2 linked regions of the Homo sapiens genome follow. The protein of the gene in region 1 interacts with the protein of each later gene in a pairwise test. Each region holds a gene or a part of one and is shown on either strand. Other genes may lie near its edges. The genes, in order: NPC1 and MC4R.

The links.
Region 2: the proteins of NPC1 (region 1) and MC4R interact in a two-hybrid assay, tested with the Homo sapiens proteins (one large-scale study listed by BioGRID and IntAct).

What each region holds. Positions count from the first base shown.
Region 1 is NC_000018.10:23,534,507-23,538,328, reverse strand, and holds part of NPC1 (NPC intracellular cholesterol transporter 1 precursor), read left to right. Parts: intron 1-1,452; coding exon 1,453-1,656; intron 1,657-2,628; coding exon 2,629-2,860; intron 2,861-3,769; coding exon 3,770-3,822. UniProt on the Homo sapiens protein: Intracellular cholesterol transporter which acts in concert with NPC2 and plays an important role in the egress of cholesterol from the endosomal/lysosomal compartment.
Region 2 is NC_000018.10:60,370,497-60,374,178, reverse strand, and holds MC4R (melanocortin receptor 4), read left to right. Parts: upstream 1-1,403; 5' UTR 1,404-1,829; coding exon 1,830-2,828; 3' UTR 2,829-3,117; downstream 3,118-3,682.

The sequences.
Region 1 (3,822 bases):
CATCTCATGCTCTCTCTGTGTCCTGGCCCCCTGGGCATGAGAATGAACGCAGATTCCTGTGCACATTCCAAGCGGGGCTGAGGGAGAGGACGGCCTGCTGGTAATCCAGGCCTGAAGGAACTTGGCCTGTTCACTTGTACTGATGGCAGCTGGGGCGTGATCTTAGCTTTAGTAACATTATCCCACATTAAGGTTGCGATTCTTTTAGCCTCGTCATGCTCCTTGCCAGCCCATCCATGTATAGGGTTATGGGCTATCTCACTCCCCCATCCAGCCAGGCAGCCAGTTACCCACGGAAGCCAGATATATGGCCCAAAAATAGTGATGATGACCGGAAGTCTCTGGCCTTGATTTGGAAGCTTTGGGAGGTGGAAGATGAGTATCCCCATGTATGTTAGGTAAACCCTGAACTTAGGTTTTTCATAAGAACATACATCTGACCAGAGTCATATCAGTGAATCATTTATATCATGCATGTGCTTTGAGACCTATTCGAGGTATCATGGGATGACTCCTCCTAAAAGTTAAGTAGAAATGAATCTTGCAGCTTGATTTACTCACTGACTGGATGCTTTGGCCTACGTAAAATAAGTTGAAGTAGATTCAGTTTTTCTGAAGGCAGTAGCCACCGTTCCTGGGGAGCCTCCAGGGTGCCAGCGTCATGCCAGGCACTCCCTGACATTATTCCATTTCTCATCACGCAGCCTATGAGTAGGTGGTGGTATACCCATTTACAGAAGAGGAGACTGGGGCTCAGAGGTGGTCATTTTGCTCGGGGTTACATGACCAGTAAGTGGCAGGGCTGAGGTTGTTCCCAGGGCCCTTGCCCTTTCCTGCTTCCTATTACACAACAGGACTGAGTAAACCCTGTACCTTTGATTATACATGAAACCAGGTGGAGAAACAGCAGCTATGTACCAAAGAACCCAGAGCAATCGAGAAAAGCCCATCTGGCCAGGCGAAGTGGCTCACACCTGTAATCCCAGTACTTTTGGAGGCCGAGGTGGGCGGATCACCTGAGATCACCTCAGGAGTTCAAGACTAGCCAGGCCAACATGGCAAAACCCTGTCTCTACTAAAAAAATACAAAAGTTAGTTGAGCGTGGTGGCAGGTGCCTGTAATCCCAGCTATTCGGGAGGCTGAGGCAGGGAGAATTGCTTGAACCCGGGAGGTGGAGGTTGCAGTGAGCCGAGATCACGCCACTGCACTCCAGCCTGGGCTACAGAGCAAGACTCTGTCTCAAAATAAAAAAAAAAAGAAGCCAGTCTGGGAGAGAACAAGCTAAACCTTTGGTGTTCCCTTATCTGGGGGCCTTCTTCATCCCTGAAATGTACAGCTGGGTCTGACCTCTGAGTCCAGGGTCAGGTGATTTTGCTTAGCCTCAAGTGCTCAGATTCTGCTGATATTTTGCAAGACCTGGACTCTCTTGACACCCAGGATTCTTTCCTCAGGGGACATGCTGCCTATAGTTCTGCAGTTAACATCCTCCTTGGCCATGGCACCAGGGTCGGAGCCACGTACTTCATGACCTACCACACCGTGCTGCAGACCTCTGCTGACTTTATTGACGCTCTGAAGAAAGCCCGACTTATAGCCAGTAATGTCACCGAAACCATGGGCATTAACGGCAGTGCCTACCGAGTATTTCCTTACAGGTAAAGCCTGCCCTTTTTCAATGGGGTTTACCCAGCAAAGGGCCTACACTGGGTGGGAGTGGGGAGGGTTCCCTTGGCAAGATGCTGATTTTCAGGTTGGGTTCTGGCCCCTGCTCCATTCTGAGCACAGGGCAGTATATCAAAGGAAATGGGTGCTGGGCAAAGGAGTTCAGAATCTAAAGTCTCTGTGAAGGCCTGAGGGCTAGAGACGCAAAACTTGATCTCTGCGCCACTGCACAGCTGCAAGAGACACACACTGGAAAATGGCTTAAGGCAGGGGGCGCTTGGAGAGCAGGCGGCTCAGAGCAGGGCCCGGCCCACATTCTTGGCCAACAATGAACCAGAATCCCTAACTGCTGGTTATTTGGGATGCTGCCTGTATGTAGACTTTTTATATTGTTAGGGGTTTTTTTTCCCAGGAAGAAAAGTATTATGTATGAACTACTGAATTTAGAAACTGTAGAAAGGTAGGAGAAACAAGTGATTTATTTTTCCTGCCTCCCCATGATCTCGCTTAAAGCAGGAAGGCCTGGATTTGTTTGGAAGAAGTTAAGAGCCGGTTAGCTCTGGCAGAAAATAAATGAAAGCATGTTTTCCTCAGGCCTTGCACGGACCCCGCTGAGCCTGAGGTAGTGTCTCAGGATAGATCAGGATTCTTTGTTTTTTTGTGTTTTTTCAGAATGCTGTGGAATGCTCTCTGTAAATGTCTATAAAATAGCATAGATTGGGCTTATAAACAGAAACTTTATCAAAAATATACATTTTGCATCACTGCTGGGCCCTTCTCTGGGTGGTCAGTGGCCATGAGAGGTCAAGTGAGTTGCTTTCGGTGAGTCTTGTAGACAGCCAGCAAGGTTTTCTGCAAGGGATGTTTCCCAAAGGAGTCTGACCACTTGGCAGTGGTGACAGGATGAACACGCAGTGTTCGGGAGTGAGAGCGAGCTTTAATGAGGCCTCCCCTCTCCCCTCCAGTGTGTTTTATGTCTTCTACGAACAGTACCTGACCATCATTGACGACACTATCTTCAACCTCGGTGTGTCCCTGGGCGCGATATTTCTGGTGACCATGGTCCTCCTGGGCTGTGAGCTCTGGTCTGCAGTCATCATGTGTGCCACCATCGCCATGGTCTTGGTCAACATGTTTGGAGTTATGTGGCTCTGGGGCATCAGTCTGAACGCTGTATCCTTGGTCAACCTGGTGATGGTGAGTCCTCATACAGTCTCAGTTTGTCCCTAGCTCCTGTTTCACTTGGGGGAATTGGCTGTCTTAGATTCCATGTAAACCCTAAAGATGGAGTAAGATACCAAGTCTGGCGCTTGCTCTTGGCACACATGGAGAGGCAGGATGAGTGCTGGAGGAGTGCTGGATGGTGGTGGGACAGGGCATAGAGGGAGCGAGCATTGAGTTGGACATCTGGGAGCATAGGCACATTACAGGCAATTTCTGTTCAATTTTTTCTCTTGTCCCATTCCTTGCGGCTATACTAGTATACCTGATGGTGCCTCTGACCATGGAAATGTGATTTCCTGGCCTAGTTCTGGGCTAGTCTGCCTGTAATTTGTTATTCTTTAGAGATTGCACAAGCCTGTAGCCTGATGACAGCAGGATGTTCACTTTTTACTTAGAAAATTGCACCCCGCCCCAGGAGCTCTCCGACCAGTGCCTTTTGCCTCCTATGTGGTTATCAGGTACTTTTAATCATTAAAGATGAGAGCACTTGAGAAGGTATTCATGGAAAATAGAACAGTGTATCCGTACTCTCAGATATGAGCCCTGCTTCAGATAGGGGAGCACTGAGGTCCAAGAAAAGAAGTTGTGACAATGCGCCAGCTCGGTGCGGGTGGGGTGACCTTAACGGGTTCCAGCAATTTCTCCTGGTCAACACAAACGTGCCACAGAAAACCAGGCTTTTGGCTGTGTGTAGAGAGGGCCCCAAAAAGTTCCTGGTACAGTAAGATTGGTGTGATGGAGGCCTTGTAAGTCCAATGGGATGCTTGGCCTCCTCTAGCACCCAGGGTGCCCTGGGTAATTAGCACCCATCCTCAGAACGGGGTGGCTGCCTAGGGTCTTCAACAGGAAGAGAGCCATCCTAAAGGAAGTGCTTTATTTCAGAGCTGTGGCATCTCCGTGGAGTTCTGCAGCCACATAACCAGAGCGTTCACGGT
Region 2 (3,682 bases), about 37 Mb from region 1:
CTCATGATGTTCAGGAAAGCCCATTCCAGCATTTTACAATATACAGATGATTAGGCATTCAGAAATACAGGGGAAGGGAGTTGGAGGTGTGAGTTCTGCTCTGTGCAATCATTCAAGAGACAGGCTCCTTTCATGATATGGTCCTGCCACCTGTAACATGAGATTTCAAAGACAGGAGAGAAAACTTGTGTAAAATTATGAAAGAGCTAATGCGATGAGCCCCACTGTCAACATGCCATTAGCTAGAATTTAGTCATAAGGTCCTACCCAATTCCAAAGGTGGATGGAAGACGTTAATTTATCTCAATGCTCAGGAACAATACTTAGTATTGTCTCTGTCACAAAAGGAAAGAGGATACATTCCCAACCTAAGTAACTGAGATTCAGAATTAACCCTGAAATAAGCAGCTACAAACTATAGAGCACTAAAACCAAAAATAATCATAGAAGAAAAGAATATACAAAATTTTGTATAATCTGTTGTTCAGTTAATTTGGAAAGTAACTTTGCTGCCATCTTTCAAACCACCTTAAGCAAAATATTCAGAAACTTCAATAACTAACTAGTATCACCAGTCTTGGCTTGATAAGTAAAGTTACTAGGTATTTGTCGGTTCAACTTACGATACGTTAAACTCTGGAGGTTTAAAAAAAAGTTGCTTAAAAAAAAAAAACAGAATGCAGCTTATTATTTTCCTGAGTTCAGTGTAAGCATAGTTACATTAATGCCGTATGAGTTTAAAATATTGTAAATAAAAAGCACCTTTTTTCAGCTATAACACAAACTCCTCAATAGAGAAATATGGGATATTAGTGCATTAAAATCAACCCCTTTTGAACCCATTCATAATTTATAGCTACCTACATAGTTCTTCCAGCCATACCATGTCTATCTGTATCATTAAATATCCTCTCTGTTTTTCAGGTATTTTAACTGAACCACTACTGGCTGGGTTCTTAATAAAAACAAAAAATTAAGAAGGTAAATAAATTCAGTATCCTAGCCAAAAAGCAGAGTATCTGTTTCAGGAACATAAGACAGTATACTTTCCATTTCATTTTACACACACACATGATGTCTTTTACATAAGAATGAACCTGGCTGCCTGAAGATAGCTTGTTTTGATATCACAGAATGGCCTCTAGGGATCAAGTTGTTTCCCTTGAAAACTTAAAAAGGGAAATTCAGTCTCTTATCCGGCTTGCTTCTCGACTTCAGACTTCAGGAGCTTCTGCATCTGAATCTGTGTCACCCTGCAATTTGTGTCTCTGAAACATAATCCTGTCTCACAGACTCCCATTGCATTGGGATTGGTCAGAAGGAAGCAGAGGAGGAGCCACCGTGAACATGTTTTTTTTCTCTCCACACATCATAAAAATCAGCAGCTGGCGCCTACAGCCCCTAACACTCAAAGCAACGCTCAGGCTGGAAACAGAAGCTTCCGAGAGGCAGCCGATGTGAGCATGTGCGCACAGATTCGTCTCCCAATGGCATGGCAGCTTCAAGGAAAATTATTTTGAACAGACTTGAATGCATAAGATTAAAGTTAAAGCAGAAGTGAGAACAAGAAAGCAAAGAGCAGACTCTTTCAACTGAGAATGAATATTTTGAAGCCCAAGATTTTAAAGTGATGATGATTAGAGTCGTACCTAAAAGAGACTAAAAACTCCATGTCAAGCTCTGGACTTGTGACATTTACTCACAGCAGGCATGGCAATTTTAGCCTCACAACTTTCAGACAGATAAAGACTTGGAGGAAATAACTGAGACGACTCCCTGACCCAGGAGGTTAAATCAATTCAGGGGGACACTGGAATTCTCCTGCCAGCATGGTGAACTCCACCCACCGTGGGATGCACACTTCTCTGCACCTCTGGAACCGCAGCAGTTACAGACTGCACAGCAATGCCAGTGAGTCCCTTGGAAAAGGCTACTCTGATGGAGGGTGCTACGAGCAACTTTTTGTCTCTCCTGAGGTGTTTGTGACTCTGGGTGTCATCAGCTTGTTGGAGAATATCTTAGTGATTGTGGCAATAGCCAAGAACAAGAATCTGCATTCACCCATGTACTTTTTCATCTGCAGCTTGGCTGTGGCTGATATGCTGGTGAGCGTTTCAAATGGATCAGAAACCATTGTCATCACCCTATTAAACAGTACAGATACGGATGCACAGAGTTTCACAGTGAATATTGATAATGTCATTGACTCGGTGATCTGTAGCTCCTTGCTTGCATCCATTTGCAGCCTGCTTTCAATTGCAGTGGACAGGTACTTTACTATCTTCTATGCTCTCCAGTACCATAACATTATGACAGTTAAGCGGGTTGGGATCATCATAAGTTGTATCTGGGCAGCTTGCACGGTTTCAGGCATTTTGTTCATCATTTACTCAGATAGTAGTGCTGTCATCATCTGCCTCATCACCATGTTCTTCACCATGCTGGCTCTCATGGCTTCTCTCTATGTCCACATGTTCCTGATGGCCAGGCTTCACATTAAGAGGATTGCTGTCCTCCCCGGCACTGGTGCCATCCGCCAAGGTGCCAATATGAAGGGAGCGATTACCTTGACCATCCTGATTGGCGTCTTTGTTGTCTGCTGGGCCCCATTCTTCCTCCACTTAATATTCTACATCTCTTGTCCTCAGAATCCATATTGTGTGTGCTTCATGTCTCACTTTAACTTGTATCTCATACTGATCATGTGTAATTCAATCATCGATCCTCTGATTTATGCACTCCGGAGTCAAGAACTGAGGAAAACCTTCAAAGAGATCATCTGTTGCTATCCCCTGGGAGGCCTTTGTGACTTGTCTAGCAGATATTAAATGGGGACAGAGCACGCAATATAGGAACATGCATAAGAGACTTTTTCACTCTTACCCTACCTGAATATTGTACTTCTGCAACAGCTTTCTCTTCCGTGTAGGGTACTGGTTGAGAATATCCATTGTGTAAATTTAAGCCTATGATTTTTAATGAGAAAAAATGCCCAGTCTCTGTATTATTTCCAATGTCATGCTACTTTTTTGGCCATAAAATATGAATCTATGTTATAGGTTGTAGGCACTGTGGATTTACAAAAAGAAAAGTCCTTATTAAAAGCTTAACAATGTCTCCTTCGTGTTATTCATAAGCATTGGACACTTTGCGTGCTTTCGTAACATAGAAATCAGAGCCTCATTAAACATATTCTAATAAATGCTTTATTATATTATATTATCCACCATTGAAATGTAGAGAGTTCATTCTAGCAGTTAAGGGAAAATATTTAAAGAATAGATGTATAATCATTTTTAAAAATATCATCACTGAAATTTCAAGTAATTTAATTAAAGGTTTGTTCATCCTCCCTGTGCAGAAGTAGAAATGAAGCTCCTCTAGAGAGAAAAACAGGTGCTGAAAAAAGAGAGATGCTGAGTTAGAAAACTATGTGTACTTCTCAGACACAGAAAGATTCATCTCCCTTAGCAAACAGCCTGATATTTCACACAGGCAATTCGGTTTGGGGTGGGTGGGAAAAGGCAGCTATAGGGATGAAAGTGTCCTGGAAAACCTAAGTTGCCATGTCAAGCTAAATTTCCTGTTACCAAATTATCCCTAAACAATATTAATAAAACAGAGAATGGGGATTTATGCCCCCTTTAAACAAGGATTCAGGGTCTGCTGAAGTGTCCAGAAA